3 separate regions of the Homo sapiens genome follow, and regions 2 and 3 are each linked to region 1. The links come from fine-mapping of genetic effects on gene expression. A gene starts in region 1. Each other region holds a variant in brackets. All regions are shown on one strand. Distances are between the middles of the regions. Region 1 holds the start of SLC25A30 (solute carrier family 25 member 30). Region 2 has its middle 22 kb from the start of SLC25A30. Region 3 overlaps SLC25A30 (solute carrier family 25 member 30).

The links. PIP is the estimated chance that this variant, and not a neighbour inherited with it, causes the effect.
Region 2: its variant is fine-mapped to the expression of SLC25A30 in whole blood (TOPMed, PIP above 0.99).
Region 3: its variant is fine-mapped to the expression of SLC25A30 in monocytes (Fairfax 2014, PIP 0.95). The same link has a PIP of 0.9 or more in monocytes after LPS and monocytes after interferon gamma.

Annotation. Positions count from the first base shown.
Region 1 is chr13:45,414,512-45,422,695 of GRCh38, reverse strand. It overlaps SLC25A30 (solute carrier family 25 member 30), which reads left to right and starts at 4,323. Exons shown (of 10, transcript NM_001010875.4): 1 at 4,323-4,396. SLC25A30-AS1 (SLC25A30 antisense RNA 1) reads right to left here and starts at 4,534. Exons shown (of 2, transcript NR_047031.1): 1 at 3,958-4,534; 2 at 2,325-2,448. RefSeq lists enhancers at 1-41, 3,919-4,108, 4,919-4,968 and silencers at 4,219-4,318, 4,359-4,688.
Region 2 is chr13:45,436,570-45,444,753 of GRCh38, reverse strand. It overlaps the pseudogene PPIAP25. Among named protein-coding and RNA genes, the nearest start is that of SLC25A30, 22 kb to the right of the region's middle. The variant A/T (reference allele first, on the strand shown) is at 4,781.
Region 3 is chr13:45,391,926-45,400,109 of GRCh38, reverse strand. SLC25A30 (solute carrier family 25 member 30) reads left to right here. Exons shown (of 10, transcript NM_001010875.4): 8 at 1,032-1,170; 9 at 2,772-2,852; 10 at 4,095-6,794. The coding sequence ends at 4,136. Among named protein-coding and RNA genes, the nearest start is that of SLC25A30-AS1, 22 kb to the left of the region's middle. The variant C/T (reference allele first, on the strand shown) is at 4,137.

The sequences.
Region 1 (8,184 bases):
ATTCCTATAAAACAGGATTTCTAAAACTTCAGTACTATTGCCACCTTCCTGGGCATTGTTGAACGTTTAGCAGCAACCTAGGTCCCTACCAACTTGCCAGTAGCAAGCATCTAGTTGAGGCAACCGAAAAACTCCAGACATTGTGAATTTCTCCTGGAGGGCAAAATCTGATTCAGATTGAGAACCGCTGCAATAAAATATAATGATAAAGAATTTTATGGGCTCATTCCCAGTACACCAGCTAGGAACACTGGCCTATCCAGGTGTTCTTCTTAGGAGTAGCAATGGCTCATTGCTTCTGCATTTTGCCAAGGAGAGGAGGTGACCAGATGTCTCAGTCAGATACAACCTCCTCCTTTCGCCAACCACCAAATGTTACCCCTAAAAGGTCTGACTAAGCCCTTTCATTCTGCAAGCACCAACCATCCAGAAAAACCTGTGAGACTCATTCTTGACAAGACGCAGGTCCATATTATCTGCATCATTCCTGTAGTTTAATGTAATTAAACAAACATTTATCAAATTGTAGTTGATTCCAAAGCATTTGTTATTTATTGCCACTATATAGTGCACACACAATTGCCAAGATGATGAAAACCATGATGTGGGTAAAAAATGGTTCCTGCTGCCCAGCTCCTCATAGAGATTGGCATCATCCACCTAAGGGAGTGTAGTGAGGGCTTTTGGCTGTGTGGATGTTACTGTTCTAACAGTTTGCTAATAAAAGGCCTAAATGGCAATAAAAGCCCAGCTACTTGAGAAGTGCCTATATGGCCAGACTTTAGAATGTAGGATTGAGGGGCAAGTGCATGGGTGAGGAGGATAGGGAACTGGATTCTTATGGCTGGAGGGCTCTAAGGACCACGTGGTCAGGGGCCTTAATCTTGAGGACACTGGGGAGCCAATGAAGAATTTTAAGCTGGTGAGTGCCATGGCCAGATGAATTCAAAGATATTTCTACAGCACTTACATTTTACAAAGTATGTTTTTGCACACGTCGCCTCATTTAACATTCTGTAGGGAGGGTATTGTTTCCATTTTGCAACTGAGGACTTTAATTAACTCAAGGCCAGAGAGCTAATAAAGCTGTGGCCAGGATTGAGTAGAACCTAGGTCTTCATTTCCATATTGCTACCTGGGTGTGTTAACTGTAGTCAGATAAAAAACATGCACAAAGAGCCAAATAGGGGGAAAGTTGAAGGCAAAGAATAGATGAAAAAGAAGTTGCTTCCAACAGGGACTGGCACTGAATAGTTCGTAGATATATTTCTGGACTTACCACTTTTTTTTAATTCTTTTTTTTTTTTTTTTTTTTTGGAGATGGAGTCTTGCTCTGTTGCCCAGGCTGGAGTGCAGTAGCACGATCTCAACTCACTGCAACCTCTGCTTCCCAGGTTCCAGCAATTCTCCTGCCTTAGCCTCCCAAGCAGCTGGAACTATAGGCAGGCAGCACCATGCCCGGCTAATTTTTGTGTTTTTAGTGGAGATGGAGTTTCGCCATGTTGGCCAGGCTAGTCTTGTACTCCTGACCTCAGGTGATCCACCTGCTTCGGCCTCCCAAAGTATTGGGATTATAGACGTGAGCCACCACGCCTGGCCTTTTTTTGTTATTCTTGTTTCTAAACTGGTTATGCTGCTGCAACCAAGTTACTATTCCCTAGAGAAATAGTTTCCAATCCCTGGGCCAAGACCCTTGGAGGAACCCAAGGTTACTGCAGGGGCCCCACAAATTCCATATGCATTTTCATAATGGACACTGAAAATACTACCATCTATTTTATAGGGACTCAAAATTTTTAAAAAATTCAGTTTTCTTTCAAAAAGATCTTTGGCCAGGCATGGTGGCTCATGCCTGTACTCCCAGCACTTTGGGAGGCCGAGGCAGGAGGATTGCTTGAGTATAGGAGTTCGAGGCTGCAGTGAGCTGTGACTGGGCCACTGCACTCCAGCCTGGGTGACAGAGCGAGACCCTGTCTTGAAAAACAAAACAAAACAAAAGCACAAAAAAACCCACAAAGGGATCTTCATACTTGAAGGCTGGCCATTCCTGTGTATTTCTAAGTATTATCTGAGTATTAGCATGGGCTGGTGGGGCTTAGGGTAATGGTAGAGTTTGGGTGTCCAAAAGCTCTACAGGAAAGGGAGGAATCCAGTGCTTTGTATGTAGTACCACACAGTCATGAGTCTGGAAAGGACTTGGTGAGGTGAGAGAGAGGTAGAAAGGGTCATGTACTTATTTCCCTGCCCTAGAAAGGCAAGCATTCCAATGACTTTCCCCCACAGGCTGGGGATTGTATTTGTTTTTATGGCCAGAATTCAGGGGATACTTCAAAGGGGTCCAAATTTTATTGATTTCAAAACATTGTGTGGCCAAAAATCCAGGTACTCACCTAGAGTCCAAGTTGGAGCACAGAAAAGAGATTGTTTAAGCTCAACCTGGGGCCTGAGCTGGAGACACAAGAGAAGGAAATGAGAGAGAGATGGCCCTGGGCCCTGGTTCTGTAACAGGGCAGTTATCTCATGAAACCTCTGTTCTGTCATCTGTAAAATGGAAATAACATTTCTTTGTCTTGAATGAACCAAGGGATGTAAAGATTCCTGGAGTAGCACTTTGCATCAACAGATGCAAGTTTTATACATATGCATTTTCCTTCCTCCCTTCCTTCCTCCCTCTTTCTCCTTTCCCCTTTCCTTTCTTCCCCTTCCCCTTCCCTTCGCCTCCCCTCCCTTTCCTTTCCTTTTCTTTCTCTCGCGCTGTCACCCAGGCTAGAGTGCAGCAGCTAGAGTGCAGCAGCTAGAGTGCAGCGGCGTGATCTCGGCTCACCTCAACCTCCACCTCCCAGCTTCAACTGATTTTCCTGCCTCAGCCTCCCGAGTAGCTGGGATTACAGGTGTCCATCACCACGTCCGGCTAATTTTTGTACTTTTAGTAGAGATGGGTTTTCTCCATATTGGTCAGGCTGGTCTCGAACTCCCGACCTCAGGTGATCTGCCCGTCTCGGCCTCCCAAAATGCTGGGATTACAGGCATAAGCCACTGAGCCCGGCCCCAGTTATATGTTTAAATCATGAGTTCACAGCCGGGTGCCGTGGCTCACACCTGTAATGGCAGCACTTTGGGAGGCCGAGGCAGGCGGATCACCTGAGGTCGGGAGTTCGAGACCAGCCTCACCAATATGGAGAAACCCCATCTCTACTAAAAATACAACAATTAGCCGGACGTGGTGATGGGCACCTGTAATCCCAGCTACTCGGGAGGCTGAGGCAGCAGAATCACTTGAACCTGGGAGGCGGAGGTTGCAGTGAGCTGAGATGGTGCCATTGCACTCCAGCCTGGGCAACAAGAGTGAGGCTCTGTCTAAAAACAAAACAAAACAAAAATATACCTGGGTATGCTTGAACACAAACACTGCCATACCGTTAAAAATGTTATATATTAATATATAAATAAATATTTACATATATGTATATTAGATATATATGTAAAGATTTCTACTCATAGTACGGTTCTTTTAATTTTTTGTTCTGTTTGGACATTTTCTTTCTTTTTTTTTTTTTTTTTTTTTAAGAGGGAGTATCACTTTGTCGCCCAGGCTGGAGTGCAGTGGCGCGATCTTGGCTCACTGCAACCTCCGCCTCCCGGGTTCAAGCGATTCTCCTGTTTCAGCCTCCCGAGTGGCTGGGATTACAGGCACCCGCCACCAGGTCTGGCTTTTTTTTTTTTTTTTTTTTTTTTTTTTTTTTTTTTTTTTTTTTGAGACGAAGTCTCGCTTTGTTGCCCAGGCTGGAGTGCAGTGGTACGCTCTCTGCTCACTGCAATCTCCGCCTCCCAGGTTCAAGCGATTCTTCTGCCTCAGCCACCCAAGTAGCTGGGATTATAGCGCCCGCCGCTATGCCCGGCTAATCTGTATATTTTCAAGCTAAAAGCTGGGGTATAAAAAAATAAGGGCAAGTTTACTTCCATCCAACTGTGAAGGTTCACGGGGGCACCGTGAGAAGGTTGCCCCCTGCGAAGGTTGCTTTTCCACGGTTCTCGATGCGTTCCCCAAATTTCTCTTCCACCTCCCAGTCGATATCGGAGGCCACATCAGGTGTCACCGAGTCCCGGGCAGCTCCCTCAGGCAGCGGCAGGGGAAGATCCTGAGGGGCACTTGGGACGGGCCCCGCCCCTCCGTGTCCCCATCTGGGGCTGTCAGGGGTGTGGCTAGTGCTGGCAGAAACCAATGGGAGCTGAGGAGGTCGCGTGTTTGCGCGGACGGGGCGGGGCGGCGCGGGGCTGCGTGCAGGCTCGTGGGTCTGCCCCGCCCGCGACGGCATTTTTTCCTTTTCTCCAGCGGCCTCAGGTTCTTGTTACAACTGAGTCCGGGTTGGAGGAGGTGTGGGGCCGCTGCCGCCAGGTAAGTCCTGGCCCGTGCCTCCTCCTGCCGGCCCCGCTTTCTCTGCGGCTCCTGGAACCCGGGCCTGGGGTAAGGTTGGGCTGCGATTTCCGAGGAGCCTCCTTTGCAACCGGGCGTGCTCGGGGCTGCCTGTGCTCTCCACTTCGCAGGCCGGGCCGGGCTCGGCGGGGCGCGAGGTTCCGGGGACTGGGGACAGGGCTCTGCTTCTCGGGCTGCTGCCTCCTTGGGTCGGGCCGGTGCCGCGGGGCCCCCATCGCTGTTGGCGTGGGGTGATTCCTGTTCCAGGGTCATTCAGATCCGAGTGCGAAGCCCGTCCTGGCATCTCCGCGTCTGCTAACGAGCCCCGGGCTTGCAACCCTGCTTGTGCGTCCCTCCCACTCGTGCGTTCATTCAAACGGCAGCCTGAGCGCCCGCGAGCTTCGCACTGTGGGAGAGGGCACACCACATTCGGAATCGCTCGTGGCACACAGGCTGGGAGGAACTTGCCTGGAAAGTTAATGTACCTCTGGGTTTTGAAGTCTTTCTAGGTGCACTTTCATGTAAAGCAGTTGCAGTGATTAGCATTTTTGTTCTGCGCAAGAGTAGCAAACAATGTTGGCACTGCCCTGCGGATTCGGCTTGCGGTGCTACTTGGGTAGTGAGAAAGTTGAAAGGCATGAATCTTGCTTTTGGCTTTGCCGTTGCGAAGCTTTGTGACCGCGGGCTCAGTTAATTAACGTGAAACGAGATGATAATTTCGAAGATTTCTTTTAAACCCGGCTTTTTGTAAGTCTGTGATGAGCTTAGTTTTCCTTCTGCACCTTTAAAAAGAATAGGAAATAGGAAAAGTTCATGAAAGGGCATTATTGAAAGGGCAGTCGGTCCAGCAAGGAACAATAAATGTATGAGAGCACATTAAAGGCTGTGCAATTACAGTTTTAAGACTTAAGACTAAAAAGGGAACAGGAAGTAAAACTGAAAGAACTTACCAAGAATTAAATAAGAGAAACGGCTGGGAGCGGTGGCTCAGGCCTGTAATCCCAGCACTTTGGGAGGCCGAGGCGGGCGGATCACCTGAGGTCAGGAGTTCGAGACCAGCCTGGCCAACATGGAGAAACTCCGTCTCTACTAAAAATACAAAATTAGCCGGGCGTGGTGACGGATGTCTAATTCTAGCTACTCGGGAGGTTGAGACAGGAGAATCGCTTGAATCCAGGAGACGGAGGTTGCAGTGAGCCGAGATCATGCTATTGTACTCCAGCCTGGGCAATAAGAACAAAACTCCGCCTCTAAATAAATAAATAAGAGAAACTTGGAAAGCGTTCAAAAGTACGAACAGCTAGTATTATATTTAATTACCTCCCTTTACAGCTGTACACATGAGGTCAGGTGGGTGAAAATAAATACTAAGCAACCATGTAAGAGAAAATGTAGACAGGATGTGTAACTTAGCATATATCCTAAGTGTAGGGAGAATCCTTTGAAATTCTTAATTTGTATAGACAATTTCATTCAGAAAACTTGTTTTTAACCTTTATTTATTATTTGGGACAGGGTCTTGCTCTGTCACCCAGGCTGCTAGAGTGCAGTGTCATGGTCTTAGCTCACTGCAGCCTTGAAGTCCTGGGCTTATGTGCCCCTTCCACCTCAGCCTGCGGAGTAGCTGGGACTAGAGTCGCGTACCACCATACCTAGATAATGTTTTGGATTTTTTTAGTATAGGTGGTCGTCTCATTCTGTTGCCCAGGCTGGTCTTGAACCCCTGGCCTCAAGCTATTCTCCAGCCTCAGCCTCCCAAGTAGCTGGGATTACAGGTATGTGTGACTAGCCCAGCTAACATTTTTGTTGTTGTTTTTTTACTTTGTATTTTTCACTTTTTTTTGTATTTATTTATATATTTATTTATTTATTTGAGATGGAGTTTTGCTTTTGTTGCCCAGGCCGGGGTGCAGTGGTGCGGTCTCAGCTTACTGCAACCTCCGCTTCCCAGGTTCAGGCAGTTCTCTTGCCTCAGCCTCCCGAATAGCTAGAATTACAGGCGCCCACCACTATGCCTGGCTAATTTTTGTATTTTTAATAGAGACAGGATTTCACCGTGTTGGCCAGGCTGGTCTCGAACTCCTGACGTCAGGTGATCCACCCGCCTCGGCCTCCCAAAGTGCTAGGATTACAGGCATGAGCCACCGTGCCCGGCCTGTTTTGTTTTTAACTTTAAAAAATTTGGACCGGGCGCCGTGGTTCATGCCTATAATCCCAGCACTTTGGGAGTCGGAGGCAGGCAGATCACAAGGTCAGGAGTTCGAGACCAGCCTAACCAACATGGTGAAACCCCATCTCTACCAAAAATACAAAAATTAGCTGGACGTGGTGGCACGTGCCTGTAATCCCAGTTACTCAGGAGGATGAGGCAGGAGAATTGCTTGAACCTGGGAGGCAGAGGTTGCAGTGAGCTGAGATAGCACCACCGCACTCCAGCCTGGGTGAAAGAGCGAGACTCAGTCTCAAAAAAAAAAAAAAAAAAAAATTATTCAGCCAGGCACCAACAGCTTTCTTTCTTTTTTTTTTTTTTGTGATGGAGTCTCGCTCTGTCACCCAGGCCACAGTGCAGTGGCGCCATCTTGGCTCACTGCAACCTCTGCCTCCCGGGTTCAAAGCTATTCTCCTGCCTCAGCGTCCCGAGTAACTGGGATTACAGGCATCTGCCACCATGCCCAGCTAATTTTTGTATTTTTAGTAGAGACCGGGTTTCACCATGTTGGCCTGGCTGGTCTCGAACTCCTGACCTCAAGTGATCCACCCTCCTCCACCTTCCAAAGTGTTGGGATTACAGGCTTGAGCCACCACACCCGGCCAACAGCTAACATTTTTAAAAATAAAATTTTTTATTTCCTCTGCTGGAAAATTCTATATTTATTCTGAATGTATAGAATTCCCTGCCCTGCCCCCCACCAATATTTTTTTAACAGCCCTTGGAAGATAGTGTCTGCAAAGTACTATCTAGAGGAAGGGTCATGTGATCCTTCAGAGAAACCTTAGTTTGAATATTTGGTAGCTTTGACCAGGGAAAGTTACTTTTCTTCTCTGAGGCTGTTTGCTTAGTTGTGAGATGTGGATAATGATACCTCTTTCATAGGACTGTGAAGAAAATGTATAGCAATGCCTAACAGCAGGTATTCAGGGATGACTGCTAGTGTTAGTATTATGTTCATAACGCAGCAAGGAGAAGTAAGGAATTACTGGGTTTTAGCATGGCTTAGAGAACATGGCTGTAAGAGGACTGTCAAATCAGAAGTGATCTACAGCCACTGCCCGACACTGGAATTTCTGCAAAGTTGTAATTCCTTCCCCGAGATGCTGCCCAGACACTATTGACTGCTAAGGACACATTAATCTCTCTAACTGTCTTGGCTTGTCAGCCTTGGGACTTCTGTAGATCCAGTTGGGATTTTTCCAAACAACTGTGTTTGGAATTCAAGGAAGTGTTTCACGAGACTTCCCTTCAGAAAGAGCTCCAAAACAAAGAAATGGGTTAGTTTACTGAACAGAGATTTCAGCCTAAGATACTTATAGCCCTGTCACAGCTTGCTGTGGCCAGTACAGCTTAGTGGACATCTACTTACTTATTCCAGTCCTAACTAGAACCGTTTTCGTGTGTGTGTGTGTGTGTGTGTGTGTGTGTGTGTGTATGTGTGTGTGTGTGTTTGAGACAAAGTTTCGCTTTTGTTGCCCAGGCTGGAATGCAGTGTCAAGATCTTGGCTCACTGCAACTTCCGCCTCCCGGTTTCAAGCGATTCTTCTGCCTCCGCCTC
Region 2 (8,184 bases), 22 kb before region 1:
GATTGGGCTTCTAACGTACCCATTACTCCAATAGTGAACATGGTTCCTGACAGGTAATTTTTCAACTTCACTCCCCTCCCAACCTCCACCCTTTTATCACCAGCGTCTACTATTTCTGCTTATGCCAAGACTGGTTCTTGGTGAAGGCCCTTTTCCTGGTTCACAGATAGCTGCTTTCTCCTTGTATTCTCATCTGGCAGAGAGTAGAGAGAAGAAGCAAGCTCTCTCCTGTCTCTCTTTTTTTTTTTTTTTTTTTTTTTGGCGGAGTCTCACTCTGTTGCCCAGGCTGGAGTACAGTGGCGCGATCTTGGCTCACTGTAACCTCCGCCTCCTGGGTTCAATTGATTCTCCTGCCTCAGCCTCCCAAGTAGCTGGGATTACAGATGCTTGCCACCACACCCGGCTGATTTTTGTATTTTTAATAGAGATGGGTTTTTACCATGTTGGCCAGGCTGGTCTCAAACTCCTGACCTCAGGTGATCCACCTGCCTCAGCCTCCCAAAGTGCTGAGATTACAGGTGTGAGCCACTGTGCCTGGCCCTGTCTCTTCTTATGAGGACACTAATCTCATCATAAGGGCCTCATCCCCAGGATCTAATTACCTCCTTTTTCTGTCCCTGCTGCTATAACAGAATACCACAACCTGGGTAATGTACAAATGACAGAAATTTATTTCTCACAGTCCTGGAGACTGGGGAGTCCAAGATCAAGGCACTGGCAGGTTTTGTGTCTGGTGAGGGCTGCTCTCTGCTTCCAAGATGGTGCCTTTTTGCCTCATATCCAGAGGGGACAAACACTGTGTCCTCACATGGTGGAAAAGATGGAAGGGCAAAAAGAATTAGGATACTCCTTTTAACTTCTTTTATAAGAGCATGAATCCCATTCATGAGGGCAGAGTACTCATGACTTAATCACATCCCCAAAGACCCCACCTCATAATAATACTACATTGGATATTGGGTTCCTACTTAAGAATTTCAGGAGAATGCATACATTCAAACCATAGCACCTCCCAAAGCAAGCACCTCCCAAAGGTCCCACCTCCTAATACTATTACATTAGGGATCAGGAATTCAACATATGAATTTGGGGAGCCGGGGACACAAACATTCAGTCCGTAGCAGTCCTTTTGGCTTGTGATGTGTTGACCACTCCCTCCTGGGCTTTGGAGGCCCTGCTCTCCCAGCTGTCTGGCTCATGCCCCCATGTTGGCACCTCCTAATATGGCTCCCTACCTAATGCTCATCTCACTGCCCCTGGGAGCCGTCATCCAGAGCCATAGATTTAGCTACTGCTGGTGTAGCTTCAATGACTCTACATTTGTTTCTAGCTCATACATATTTCTTGAGCTCAGACCCAGCACATAGCACATTGACTCCTATACTCTTACACATAAATACTCTTGGACACCTTAGACCAACATGTCTCAAACAGAACCATCACCTTGACTTCTAAACAGCCCCTGTTCCCTCAGTCTGTGCTCTGTGAGACATACAACCAGACACCTTTTGCCACAAGCCAGGAACCCAGATGTTTGCCTCAATTACCTCTCCTCCACCTTCCTAGCAGATCAGTCAAATTCCATGGATTTTACCTCCTTAAGCTCTCTTGAATCTATTCTCCCCATTCCCACTATTGTAATTTAGCTTTTGCACTGGGAAACCTACATTAATGCTTCAAGACTTGGTCAACTCAAGTGTCATCTTGACCAAGCATGGTGGCTTACACCTGTAATGCCAGCACTTTGGGAAGTCGAGGTGGGAGGATTGCTTGGGGCCAGGAGTTTGAGACCATCCTGGCAAATATAGTGAGGACCCATCTCTATTTTTTTTTTTTTTTTTGAGATGGAGTCTCGCTCTGTCGCCAGGCTGGAGTGCAGTGGCACAATCTTGGCTCACTGCAACCTCTGCCTCCTGGGTTCAAGCGATTCTCCTGCCCCAGCCTCCCAAGTAGCTGGACTACAGGTACACGCCACCATGCCCAGCTAATTTTTTTATTTTTAGTAGAGATGGGGTTTTACCACATTGGCCAGGCTGGTCTCAAACTCTTAACCTCAGGTGATCTACCCGCCTTGGCCTCCCAAAGTGCTGGGATTACAGGTATGAGCCACCACGCCTTGCCCTATTTTTTTTTTTTTAAGTGTCATCTCTCCCAGGAAGACTTCTTTTTTCTTGCTCTGTTGCCCAGGCTGGAATGCAATGGTGTGATATCGGCTCACTGCAACCTCCACCTCCTGGGTTCAAGCGATTCTCCTGCCTCAGCCTCCCGAGTAGCTGGGATTACAGGTGCCCGCCACCAGGCCCGGCTAATTTTTTTTGTATTTTTAGTAGAAACAGAGTTTCACCATCCTGGCCAGGCTGGTCTTGAACTACTGACCTCGTGATCCACTCGCCTCAGCCTCCCAAAGTGCTGGGATTACAGGCGTGAGCCACTGCACCCGGCCTCTCCCAAGAAGACTTCTAAGCACCCTTCCAGGCCATTATATAATTTTGGATTTTTTTTTCCTCTTCCATCAGACTGTAAATCTCTAAATGCAAAGGCATTTCCCCACCTTTTGTACCCAGCATGGCAATCAATCGGTGATTGTTAAATGCATGCATTTAAGTAAAAAATACATTTATTTTCCACAGCAACATGTGAGATTTTTGGTGAAATGTGAAATGTTTCCATTTTTACCAACCACTCTCCACAGATTTAATCAGGTTTTTTTTCTAGGCACATTTCCTCTTGTGATTGTTTCATTTTCTACTTTACTAAACCCAAAAGGAAACAAATATTCAGGATTCACATTGGTAGCTAGAAATTCTGTTCTGGTTTGCTGGGCCAGAGAATTAAGTGAATGCGTATCTTCAAAGGAAGTTGAATTTGTAAACCACAGTCAGACAAAATTAGCAATCAGAAATGCCATTGTCCTAGGCAAGAGAATCTTTTTACACCCCTCCTGTGGCTGGCTGTGGAAGCACCACAGCCAGACAGATCACCTCCTGTCGTGTTCTTGCTGGATAACTTGCTGTTATGATTCATTTTAAGGTGAAGCACTAGTGCATGAGAGCAAGTAATAAGGTGTAAAGTTGGAGACATTCATCCTGGACAAGCCCTGGTAGTGTTCCCCTGGTATTCTCATAGAAACCGAGACAAGAAACAATTTTCAGCTGAATCTTGTAAATTTCCAGATTGGCTTTACTGATGATAACTTGCCTAATATTTATTTAGCACTCATATCATGCTATGATGTGTATGATAGAGTAACAACTGAAAAACTGAACAACTGAAAGTTGTTGAAAGTAACAACTGAAAAAGCCATCTGACCATTCTATCAAGTTTCTTTTCTTTTTTCCTTTTCTTTTCTTTTCTTTTTCTTTTTTTTTTTTTTTGAGAGAGAGTTTCACTTTTGTTGCCCAGGCTGGAGTGCGATGGCGCAATCTCGGCTCACTGCAACCTCTGCCTCCTGGGTTCAAGAGATTCTTCTGCCTCAGCCTCCAGAGTAGCTGGGACTACAGGTGCCCACCACCACACCCGGCTAATTTTTGTATTTTTAGTAGAGACAGGGTTTCACCATGTTGACCAGGCTGGTCTCAAACTTCTGACCTCTGGTGATCCACCTGCCTTAGCCCCCACAAAGTGCTGGGATTACAAGCGTGAGCCACTGCACTCAGCCTTCTTATCTTTTTAGTATAAATGGAAAGAGGACAATGAACACATACAAACTATTTTGTTAAATCATCCTTAGTTTTTGTTTTTCAGTGAACTTTGATTAAAGGAAACATATTTGGGGACAGAGTTATTCTGTTTATTTATGTGGACATTGCATTACATCTGGGAAATAGACTGTCAAGGTACAGAGGGTACTCTGTGGCCTATATCAATAAGCCCCAGCCAAGGTCTAGTTATCCCTTTTTAGGTAAGTAGGTGAAAGGGTGATGGTGGTAATGTGAGTACTTGCATCTCTGGTTGTAGAATTTTTCCTAGGCTATTGGAAAGTCTATATTAAGGCTAGGAGTTCCTGGTCATATAGAGACCTCTAGCCATTGAAAAATCCTTCTGTGGTGTTGATAGAGCAAGTTTGGCATTTGTCCACTCTAAGAGGACTGCATGTCCTTGTGACTCAAACCATTAACTGAGAACTGGCCTTGACCTGTGGGGAAGGACATGATGAGGAGAGAAACCCAGCAGGACATTGTTATCAGTGCCAACATAAGCACGAGGGTGAAATGCATCTGCTTCTTGAGCTGCCGTTCTGCAGAGGAATTTGTTAGTTAACCGGCACTGGCTGAGTGTCTGTTCTATTTAGAGCTCCTGTTATGTGGGTTAGCTAAGTATCAGCTCTTTAGGTCATAAATACATTGAGCATTTTGGGAAGACATTTAATATATGTGTGGCTATGTATTTCTCTAACAACCATCCCCTAATTTTTTTTACATGATGTATGTTGTCCATATTAGATTCTGTACAGGGTTCCTTCCATCCTTCCTTCCTTCCTTCCTTCTTTCCTTCTTCCGTCCTTCCTTCCTTCCTGTCTTTCTTCCTTTTTTTTTTTTCAGGGGGAGTACAGTGGTGTGATCTCAGCTCACTGTAGCCTCAACCTCCTGGCCTCAAGTGATCCTCCTACCTCAGTCTCCTGAGTAGCTGAGACCACAGGGTGTGTGCCACCATGCCCAGCTAATTTTTGTATGTTTTTTTTTTTTTTTTTGTAGAGACAGGGTTTCACCATGTTGCCCAGGCTGGTCTCCGACTCCTGGGCTCAAACAATCCACCCGCCTTGAACCCCCAAGGTGCTAGG[A/T]TTACAGTTTTACAGTGTGAGTCACCATGCCCAGCCTTTTCTTTTCTTTTTCTTTAACTTACAATGCTTTAATTTTTTGATAGCTTTATTGAAGTATAAATGATATACAAAAAATTGCACATATTTAAATGTATAAAATTTGATGACTTTGGTTATAATGCACATATACCTATGATATCATTGCCACAATCAAGGTAACAAATAAGTTCATCATCTCCAAAAGTTTCGTTGTGCCCCTTTGTCTGCCTTTTTGTGTGTGTGTATGCGAGGAAGAACACTTAACATGAAATCTACCCTCTTAACACATTTTTAAGTGTACAACATGGTATATTGTTAACAATAGGCACTATGTTATACAGCAGATGTCTAGATCTTAATCATCTTATATAACTGTAGCTTCATACCCATTGAAAAACTCCCCATTTCCTCCATCCTCTGGCAACCTCCATTGTATTTTCTGCTTCTCTAAGTTTGATTATTTTAAAGTCCTCATGTAAGCTTCTGTGACTGACTCATTTCACCTAGCATAATGTCCTTTAGGTCCGTCCGTATTGTCGCAAATCATCCCCTAACAATTTCATGCAGGGCTGCCTTGATTCTATAGTAGCTCCCTTTCACATGAGCAATATAAAGTGTGCTTAATTGTGTATTTGAGTGAGGTCTTTATACTCTTACTGCATGCAGCCATCCACAACAATGCACATGAGTAGTGTCTGTGTAAGAGGAGGCACAGTCAAACAGAAAGCATTCTCTTTCCGGCATGTCTGCAGAGCCTGGACACTGGCATATGCAGAGGCCCTCACAGGACTCACCTTAAAACCCAAAGTGGTTTTAAAACTTGTGGTTGGGCGTGGTGGCTCATGCCTGTAATCCCAGCCCTTTGGGAGGCTGAGGTGGGTGGATAATCTGAGGTCAGGAGTTTGATACCATCCTGGCCAAAACGGCGAAACCCTGTCTCTACTAAAAATACAAAAACTAGCTGGGCGTGGTGGCGCATGCCTGTAATCCCAGCTATTCAGGAGGCTGAGGCAGGAGAATCGCTTGAACTTGGGAGGCAGAGGTTGCAGTGAGCTGAGATTGCACCACTGCACTCCAGCCTGGGCGACAGAGCGAGACTCCGTCTCAAAAAACAAAAAAAAACACCAAAGAAAACCACTTGAGGTTGTACAAGAAATAGTCGGAGTGACTGAATCCTGCTGTGGAATCACTAACGTGTGATTTGCTTAAAAGTTTACTTAAATAAGTTATAAATCTATGATACATTTTTTTTTTTATGTAGCCCAGGCTGGAGTGCAGTGGCTTCCATCTCAGGAGGTGTCTCCCGTGTTTTTTTTTGTTTGTGTGTGTTTTTTTTTTTTTTTTTTTTTTTTGAGTAGCTGAGTAGCTGGGATTACAGGCACCCACCACCATGCCTGGCTAATTTTTGTATTTTTAGTAGAGACGGGGTTTCACCATGATGATCAGGCTGGTCTCGAACTTCTTGCCTGAAGTGATCCACCTGCCTCGGCCTCCCAAAGTGCTGGGATTACAGGTGTGAGCCACTGCACCCAGTCTATGATGCACATTTTGTGATTAGTTTTACATATGCAGTGTTATCAGTTAGGAAAACCATAAGCAGTGATACCAAGTTAAAGTGGTCTTTTTCTCAAGAAACAAGAAGCCTGGGGGTAGAAAGTTGGTTTAGCTGCCTGACAATGTCAATAAGACCCTGACTCTTTCTCTCTTTCGGTCCTGCCTTTCTTAGCATGTGGGCCTTTTGTTAACATGCTTGTCACTTTGTGAGAGTGAGACTGTGGCCACAGCTGCACGTACCATGTTTGTATTCAAGGCACGAGAATGGGGAAGGGGCAGTGCCAGTGACCACTGCTCCTGGGCCTGTTCTCTTTGTACAGAAGTAAAGCCTTTCTCAAACACTCCTCCTTATGCTGCCCAAGAGTTTCATGTTTGTCTCGTTGGACAGAACTTGTCACTTGGCCATGCTTAGCTGCAAGAAAGGCTGGGAAAGAAGTTTTTTTGTTTTGTTTTGTTTTGTTTTGTTTTGTTTTGTTTTTGAGATGGAGTCTCACTCTGTTGCCAGGCTGGAGTGCAGTGGTGCGATCTTGGCTCACCGCAACCTCTGACTCCCTAGTTCAAGTGATTCTCCTGCCTCAGCCTCCCGAGTAACTGGGATTACAGGCACATGCCACCACGCCCAGCTAATTTTTGTATTTTTAGTAGAGATGGGGTTTCACCATGTTGTCCAGGATGGTCTCCATCTCCTGACCTCGTGATCCTCCCGCCTCGGCCTCCCAAAGTGCTGGGATTACAGGTGTGAGCCACCGCGCCCAGCCGGGAAAGAAGTATTTAACATTTTCAGCTTCCATAGTGGAGGGTGGCACAACAGAGGAGGATTAGAAATAAGCTGCTCTACCAATGGCTTCTGGAGAGTCCCCACCAATCCTTCATTAAGGAAGGAAGATGTGACCAGAATCCTTTCAGTGGCTTCCTTTTGTGGCATTTAGATGTAAATTAGATTTTTCAGGGTTTCAAGGAGCAGGCACATCCTCAGGTTATTTCCATGAATGAAGGCCAATTATAAGGCTACATAGGGAAATAAAGGACACAGGAAGTTGTCTCCGGCCATGTGGTTAGGCCATATAGGACGTAGTCTGGGATGTACTTGTAGCCCCATTGCTCTGATAGCAACTCTGGTGGCACCGTCACAATACCTGGCAAGTGACTCTTCAGAACTGGGCAACTATGGATTCCTGCTCTGGGTCTCCACCATGACAGGGACTCAGATATTTTGCCTCTGACTCTACTGCTTTTGTCTGTATCAGCGGATTTTCACTCGTGCCTTATGTCAAATGTCCCAAGAGTTCCTGTGGGACAGCCTTCACCATCCAGCAGAGGGGCCACTACAGGGCAGAGTTCTCAAGGCCACCTCAGACCTCTATCCATGTCTCCCTTGGCCTATCTGTGTGACTGGGTGATGGATCATGTGTAACCACTGTTGATCACACTCAGAGGGGACTGTGGGTGAGGTGGGTTCCCCAGGGCTTTGGAGGAGGTAATGAAACAATGGCTAGTCCTGGACCCTGGCTCTAAGCCATCTGCTAAGCTGTATCAAACTAGCCTTTTTTTTTTTTTTTGGTTGTTAGTTTTTATTTCATAATCATAAACTTAACTCTGCAATCCAGCTAGGCATGGAAGGGAACAGGGAAAACATGGAACCCAAAGGGAACTGAGCGAGAGCACAAAGATTCTAGGATACTGTGAGCAAATGGTGCGGAGGGGCACTCTCCTGAGCTATAGAAGGAATGGTCTGGTGGTTAAGATAAAACACAGTCGGCAATTGTGATCTCCTTGCTGGTCTTGCCATTCCTGGACCCAAAGCGCTCCACGGCCTTCACAATAATCAGGCC
Region 3 (8,184 bases), 23 kb after region 1:
TCACATTGTATGGATATATCATACATATATATTATCATTCATATGTGTGTGTGTGTGTGTGTGTGTGTGTGTGTGTATATATATATATATATATAATCATACATAATCCATTGGTGGGCAATGTGTGGAGACTGTTCTGATTGTCACAACCAGGGGGGAATACTACTGACATCTAGTGGGGCCAGGCCAGGGATATAGCTAGTGCTGAGGTTGAGAAACTTTGCTCTGGGTTAATTGATATAAAGTATGGTCTGTGGTAGTCTTGTGGGACTGAAAATATAGCAGAACCTAAGACCTTTGCGGGGCATTATAGTAAGGAGATCTTTTTCTTTGATATCTAGGAAATGATATAATTATGATATGGCTAGAATTACTCTGATGTCCACTTACAGGTAAATAGATGGAAAAGATCATCCTTGGAGGATTTCCTTTATGTTTTATGATCCTTTGACATTCTAGAATGTCAGGTATTCTTAGCTGTCGCTGGGATTTATCAGCTAGTATAATCGGTGCTAATATGTAAGCAGTTTATCAAGCTCTCTAGATATGGCTCTTCTTGACATGTTTCATGTTGATACATGTTAGTTCAACATAGTTTTGGGGCTGGGCATGGTGGCTCATGCCTGTAATCCCAGCACTTTGGGAGGCCGAGGTGGGCAGATCACTTGAGGTCAAGAGTCTGAGATCAGCCTGGCCAACATGGCGAAACCCCGTCTCTAATAAAAATACAAAAAAAATTAGCTGGATGTGGTAGAGTACACCTGAAATCCCAGCTACTTGGGAGGCTGAGGCAGGAGAATCGCTTGAACTTGGGAGGCAGAGGTTGCAGTGAGCCAAGGTCACACCATTGCACTCCAGCCTGGGCAACAGAGCAAGACTTCGTCTCAAAAACAAAACAAAACAAAACAAAACACGAAAACCACAAACAAGAAAACCCCATAGTTTGGGCAGAAGCTGTTTTCTGCCTTTGATGGTGGTTGTAGCTCAGTGATGGTTAACTTTTTTTTTTTTTTCCAATGGTGTCTTTATAGCTCAAGCTTCACCTGTGGTCTGGCAGGGGCCCTGGCCTCAAACCCTGTTGATGTTGTGAGGACACGTATGATGAATCAGAGAGTGCTTCGAGATGGCAGATGTTCTGGCTACACAGGAACCCTGGATTGCTTGTTACAGGTAAGAGCAGATGTCTGTCTCTGCAGGGTTGTGAATTATATATTTTTTTGATCTAAGAAGTAACTAAATTATGAAAGCTACTAAAACTAAGATGAATGATGCTTTAAAGCCCAGAGATGTACATGTGTGAGACCATTTTTGCCACACTGTGCTTAGCTTTTATAAATACAATGTTGTTTTCTTTATACCTCCATCTGCTGTGAAAGGTGAGGAAATATTTCCTGTGATTATAAAAGAACTGGGTCTCCTTCCAAAATGTACTTTCTTCCTGTTGGGTCAAACTAGTATGAATATCCCTCATTCAGACATCTCTGTTAAAGGAACACATCAATCTTACTTTAATTCTCAGTTTAAATAATTGGGCCTCCTGTTTTATGAGTGGGTGAAAGGTTTCACCTGTCTCTGCCACTAGATTGCCAGTAGTAGGATTAGGAGTCACTTTTTTTTTTTTTTTAAGGTGATATTTATTTATTTATTTTCAAGTTTTAATGTATTTTAGATTCAGGGGGTACATGTGCAGGTGTGTTACATAGGCACATGCGTAGTGGTGGAGATTGGGCTTCTAATGTACCCATTACCCAAATAGTGAGCATTACACCAGACAGATAATTTTTCAACTCTAGCCTCTCCCCTTTAGGAGTCCCCAGTGTCTGTTACTTCTATCTTTATGTCCGTGTGTACCCATTGTTTAGCTCCCACTTAAAAATGAGAACATGTGGTTTTTGATCTTCTGTTTCTGCGTTAGTTTGCTCAGGATAATGGCCTCCAGCTCCATCCATGTTGCTGCAAAGAACGTGATTTCTTTTTTATGGCTACAGGGGCCACTTTTGTGGTTCCTGTTTTCCAACATGACACTAGCACATTTTATTCTTCAGGTGTTGCCTTAATGAAGCAAAGACACTTATCGTATTCATCCACCTGACATCTTGGGAAATAGTGGTACTCTGAATGATATCTCTACCACTATTGCTTCTTTATTTGTGACCTGTTCAGGAGCCCACATGGCACGGAAGCAACAGACCGTAATTGGAATTAAATCTAATTTTTTCCTCACTCAACAGTGTTTATCTCCTTTGTGTGGAGTTCATTCAATCCTTCGTGTGGGGTTGTTGGGCATGGAGCCTTAGTCTTCCACCCACACAAGCCTCTAAAGAGCAAAGATTTCTTAGGCAGTCCTTCCAAACAGGATTTTATTTTTAAGAAAAATAAATCAGTCTGGCCACTAATTATTATTATTATTTTTTGAGATGGAGTCTCGCTTTGTCGCCCAGGCTGGAGTGCAGTGGCGTGATCTTGGCTCACTGCAAGCTCCGCCTCCCGGGTTCATGCCATTCTCCTGCCTCAGCCTCCCGAGTAGCTGGGACTACAGGCGCCTGCCACCATGCCCGGCTAATTTTTTTTTTGTATTTTTAGTAGAGACAGGGTTTCACTGCATTAGCCAGGATGGTCTTGATCTCCTGACCTGGTGATCCACCCGCCTCGGCCTCCCAAAGTGCTGGGATTAAAGGCGTGAGCCACCGCGCCTGGCCTGGCCACTAATTATTAATGCATTTGGCATAATTAGAAAGTTGGAAGTTAACTTTTTTTTCTTCTTTTAACAGACATGGAAGAATGAAGGGTTTTTTGCTCTCTATAAAGGCTTTTGGCCAAATTGGTTGAGACTTGGTCCTTGGAATATCATTGTATCCTTTTCTGTTGCAATAGATCTGAAAAAAGATACAGCTAAAGAATACTATTTGTATAAACTCTCATGTTATTAATTATAATTTAGAAGTAGGTTCTGATTATTTTGAGTTCCTCTGATGCTAAGAAGTCACTACTTAGTTTCTTTTTTAGGAAGTGTAAAGTCTCCGTGCTAGACACTGAATCTTGCTTTGATGGTGGTATTATTCAAAAGTAGTGATACTACTAAAAAGGTTTAGTTAGACTCTGTTCTAGAAGCTGAGGGTATTTACGATTTCAGAGAGAGAGAGAGGAGGATTGGCTTTATAGCCCTAGCCACCTTGGGAAGGATGTGGTTGGCAACAGTGTCTTAGAATGCTTATCTTAGAAAGTGCCTGAAGATAAACAGGAATTAGCTCCGGAATTGTTTGGCAGGCCAGCACGCTTCCTATGTGCCACAGTGGGAGGCAGGAAAGGAAAGGCAGTTAACTTTTTTTTTGTTTTTGAGACTGAGTCTTTACTCTGTCGCCCAGGCTGGAGTACAGTGGCGTGATCTCGGGTCACTGCCACCTCCGCCTCCTGGGTTCTAGCAATTCTCTTGCCTTGGCCTCCTGAGTAGTTGGGATTACAGGCACATAAAACCACGCCTGGCTAATTTTTGTGTTTTTAGTAGAGATGGGGTTTCACCATGTCAGCCAGGCTGGTCTCAAACTCCTGACCTCAAGTGACCTGCCCCTTGGCCTCCCAAAGTGCTGGGATTACAGGCGTGAGCCACCGCGCCCGTGAGGCAGTTAATTAGACACTGAAGGGCAGAGTGATGAAGCAGGAATGCTGGCTTTTGCTGTCCTCTTGTTGCTCTTCATCAGCTCCTGCCTCCCAAGGAAGGATGCATAGTGGAAGCCTTTGAGGAGAGCTTCCCAGGGCTTGCTAACTCTCTCTCTCTCTCTCTCTCTCAAAAGCTTACAGTGCTGGAAAGTTTTTCCACCACAGCAAAGCCACAAAAGCTTATCAGCGTAGATGCCATCTCAGAAGAGGCTGATACCAGGGGATTTACATATCTCAGCTGTGATCTTTCTGCTCCAAGCTGACCTTGGAAGATAGTTTGATGTGGTTAAGGGTGGAACCCCTTTTATTTAATCGTGTCCATAGCGTGGGTCTGCCTGTACCTATTTGTTATTAAGTGTGCCATTTGTAAGTCTGTTGTTATGCACTGGAGTTGTGAAGATGGCATTTTCTGTGTCATCCTTAACCCATAACCACAGTTCTTTGTGACATACGAGCAGTTGAAGAAATTGGATTTGTGA[C/T]AAGCCAAGGCTGCATGAGACATCTTTCTGAAAATGGTAACTTCTGAAACAGCAAAGCTTCCTGTGTTTCACTCTGCTTCTCACTGCTTGGCTCATCACAGATTCTGGGATGTGAGCAACAGATGAAGACTGGGTTAGTTGAGATTGCTGTGTGTTGGCATTGGATGCTCTTCATCAAACGTTTAATGGCATAAACTAACATCCAAACACTAGTCTTTACCACTGAAGTGCCCTTCAACATCAAAGATAATATGTGAAATGCATGTTTCTTGCTAAAGAAAACTTGCAAGAAAATCAGGAGCGATGTATTGTTTTATTCAGGGAGAGTAGCTCCTGATGCATCTCAGCTCATGACTGAGAATCAGACTGCTCTAGAAAAGCTCACTGGAACCATGGAATGGAGCCTCCGAGAAGGTGTTATGGTTTCTGAATTTCTGGGAGATTTTGCTCCTTGTCAACTGAAGAAATTTCATGTATGGAGACCTGGACTGTTCAACCCCAGGTATAAACGGTGCAGGAAATGGATCCTAGGAATATCACACTGCTTTATCATTTCCTATTTTGGCAGGATCTTCCACTTATAATAAGTGATTTTAAGCTTTGAAGACTTGACATTTGTGAGAAATTGTTACAAAGTAATAATCTCTAAATTCGTGGTGGTGTTATGTGTTGGCTTTGAAGGTTGCAAGGTCTGTATTGGTGGGGGGTGTTTTCAAGCAGCTTAGGTTCTGTCTTAGGTCATGTTAGTAATTAGCTTTATGATTTTTAGCAAAGCATATGTATTTCTCAATGAGTAAAATGGGGATAATAACGTCTATTGATGTAGAGGGTCAAATGAAGAACAAATAGTAGCTGCTGCTACTTGACTGGAAAGGTAAATGTGTTTACATCATGCTGTGGAACAGCTCTAAACAGTCTATGTAGAAGAGGGGCATGTTCTCATGGGCTTCTCATGGTAATTGTGAATGAAGCCCTTTGTTAAGGTCTTGTTGAAGAAAGAACACTGTATAAGTTCAGGCTTTAGTACATTTTCCTTAGCAAAATGTTGGTAGTGAATCAAAGAGTTGATTTTTCCAGGTTTCCAGTTTTTACTTTAGTTTATGTTGTGCCTGTCTTGGACTTTCTGTTTAGTTTGGATGGAAAATACCTGCTTGAAATTTTAAAAATGATTTCTTTAGTGCATCTATTTAGCTAGTTTCTGATAGGTGGTATGTAATATTTTCCCTTTTTCTTTCCTTCTGTAGACACAATAAGTCATTCTCCCTCTTCTTTTTTTCTTTTTCTATTTTCTTATTCTTTACTCTAACCTGCTTCAGAGAAAGAGCCCTCTTCCTTCTTGTCTTCATCTTAGTCTTTTCAAAATAAAAGATGACTGTGAGAACCCCAAGAACTTCCACTTCTGGGAGGCAGCCACAGGACAGGGAACATATTTATTTGGGTCTCTTCAGTTCCCCCTTTGAGAACAACATTAAATACATGTTAGCTGGGGCTCCAGGGCATTCTCCTTCCACAGTAGTGCGGCCAAATTCCCAGTCTGGCCAGTCTCTTTGTTGAGACTGAATAGAAGGACTGCAGGTTTTTTTGGAGGATGAGATAATTTTTCCTCGCAGGCATTTTTCCCTTGCCTTCCTTATGCATGAATGGTCCCTTTGAATATTATTTCCAAAAGTGAGAGCTAAGACAAAGTCATCAAAAAGAGAGGATAACAGAAGGTGGGGGCGGGGGCGGGGTGCAGTGGGGTAGGGTTACCTGTTAATTGCTGAGACTCAGATGAAAGTCCAGCTCTCCCTGGGCAACCCTAGAGGGCAGCAGAGGACCCCAGAGCTCATTCAGGCCTTGCTGCTTGTTCTAAACTACACCTTAGGATTTTTTCTTCTTTCCAAAACATTCCATTGATTTTATAAAGACTTTCTATAGAGAGGCTTTCACTTTTGAGTTCTTTGAGTTTAAAGATTGCTTTTCTTGAAATGCTCTTTTTTTAATGTAGAAAAATTTTACTTTTTCAAATATGCATACAATTTTTAAAACAGTAGAAGCAAATTCATTTTAATGACCATGTAAAGAGCGAATGTCAGACAGTATTATTACCAGTTTATTCAAATTACATACATGTTCCTACCAAGGTGGAAAGAAATTCAAACCTCATGGTAAAACTTAAGCACGATTTAAGATAAAAGCATAGTATTTCTTCAGTGTAGACTTATTAAGTGCCTTATTGAACAGGATCTTAACCTGCTTTTTCTGTTTTTTTGAAAGAGTTAATGCAATTGTTGAAGCTTCTAACCAAGAAACAACTTAAGGAATTGGGAGACTTGGTCCCCTCGTTGTCAGGGTTCTGGCTATAAGTACCTCCCCACCTTTGGGTTTTCTTAAATATGCCAAAAGGAATTCTAGTTTTTATAACCAATGGGTTTTTTTGTTTGTGTGCTTATGGATTTGTGTAATCATTGATGCTTAATGTTGTGGATTCATAATATAAAAAGTGGCTCCTGTCCTTTATATTTATTCATGTGCTAGAAATAGTATGCATTATATAAAGAGTATGAAGTTTTCATAAGCCTTTATATTTCAAGCTCTTTATTTAAACATTGTTGGAATATGTGGCATAAGCCTTGTTTCATTTATTTAATAAACTGGAGTAATATATAATAATAAAAATGATTTCTGGTTATTTCAGATAAATAGAAACATTCAAACAAAGGCAAACTACATGGAGTCTAGAAGGCTGGAGTAGAAATAGTGTTGCAGCTGCAGACATTTCTCTCTGCATGGAGAAGTTGCTGGGATAATCTTACTCATTGCCTGGCACCTGTGTGATCCCCCTACCCTCCCCCCCCCCAACCCCCCTCCCCATGTATGAAATACTTGGCAGCTCAGTCGAGGCCAGTGAACTTGATTTGAGGGCTGGCTTGGCATTCGAAATACCAGTGAGAGGATGTCAGTGACGTGAACTGTCAGACCCCCTCAGCCCTTCATACAGTGTTGGGTGTTGCTAGAGGCAGATGCAGGGATCCTTGGTCAACTGTGGACCAGGCAGGGACACCTGGTTGGCAGAAAACAACCAGCTAACTCAATGCGAAGTGGGTTCATTAATCTTTTTACTTGAAAGTATTCTCTAGGTGCCTGTTAGCATGTGAATTAAACATAGTCGTTTATTTAAAAACTAACATTGGGGGCCGGGTACGGTAGATCACTTGAGTTCAGGAGCTCGAGACTGGCCTGGCCAACATAGTGAAACCCCATCTCTACTAAAAATACAAAAATTAGCTGGGCATGGTGCCATGCGCCTGTAATCCCAGCCTCTCAGGAGGCTGAAGCAGGAGAATCTCTTGAACCCGGGAGGTGGAGGTTGCATTGAGCTGAGATCACTGCACTCCAGCCTGGGAGTCAAGAGTGAGACTCCATTTCACAAAGCATAAATAAATCGTAAAACTGGGGAAAGAGGGGAGCTTTTTTTTTTCTTTAATTTTATTTTTTAGAGTAGTTTTAGCAAAATTGAATGGAAGGTACGGAGATTCCCATGTACCCCTGTCTCCTCCATCATCAACATTCTGCACCAGAGCAGTGCATTTATTACAACTGATGAACCTATTTGATGCATCATTGTCACTCAGAGTCCATAGTTTACAGTAGGGTTCACTCTTGGTGTTGTACATTCTGTGGATTTGGACGAATGTATAGTGACGCATATCCACCATTATTGTATCATACAGAACAGTTTCACAGCCCTAAAAGTGGGGAGATTGGCCTCAGTTCGCCTACCTAAGAGACTAAATGACTTACCCATATATGGTTGCCTCCATATGAAGAGCAGTGAGAACCGCCGGCCGCTGGTGTGTCTCAAATGCCTGTGAACAGTGAAATCCTCACTTGGATGGTGGCACCTGTTAGACACAATTGGCTTTAAATCCAGGATATTTATTTTTAAACCAGCAGCTGGGGAAATGTGACAGGGTAAATTTTTGGTAGGTTACAAGTAGATTCATTCTGTAGCAAAGGAGGGAAGTATAAGACAGTGTATAAATATGTTTCTCAAAAGGTTGATGTA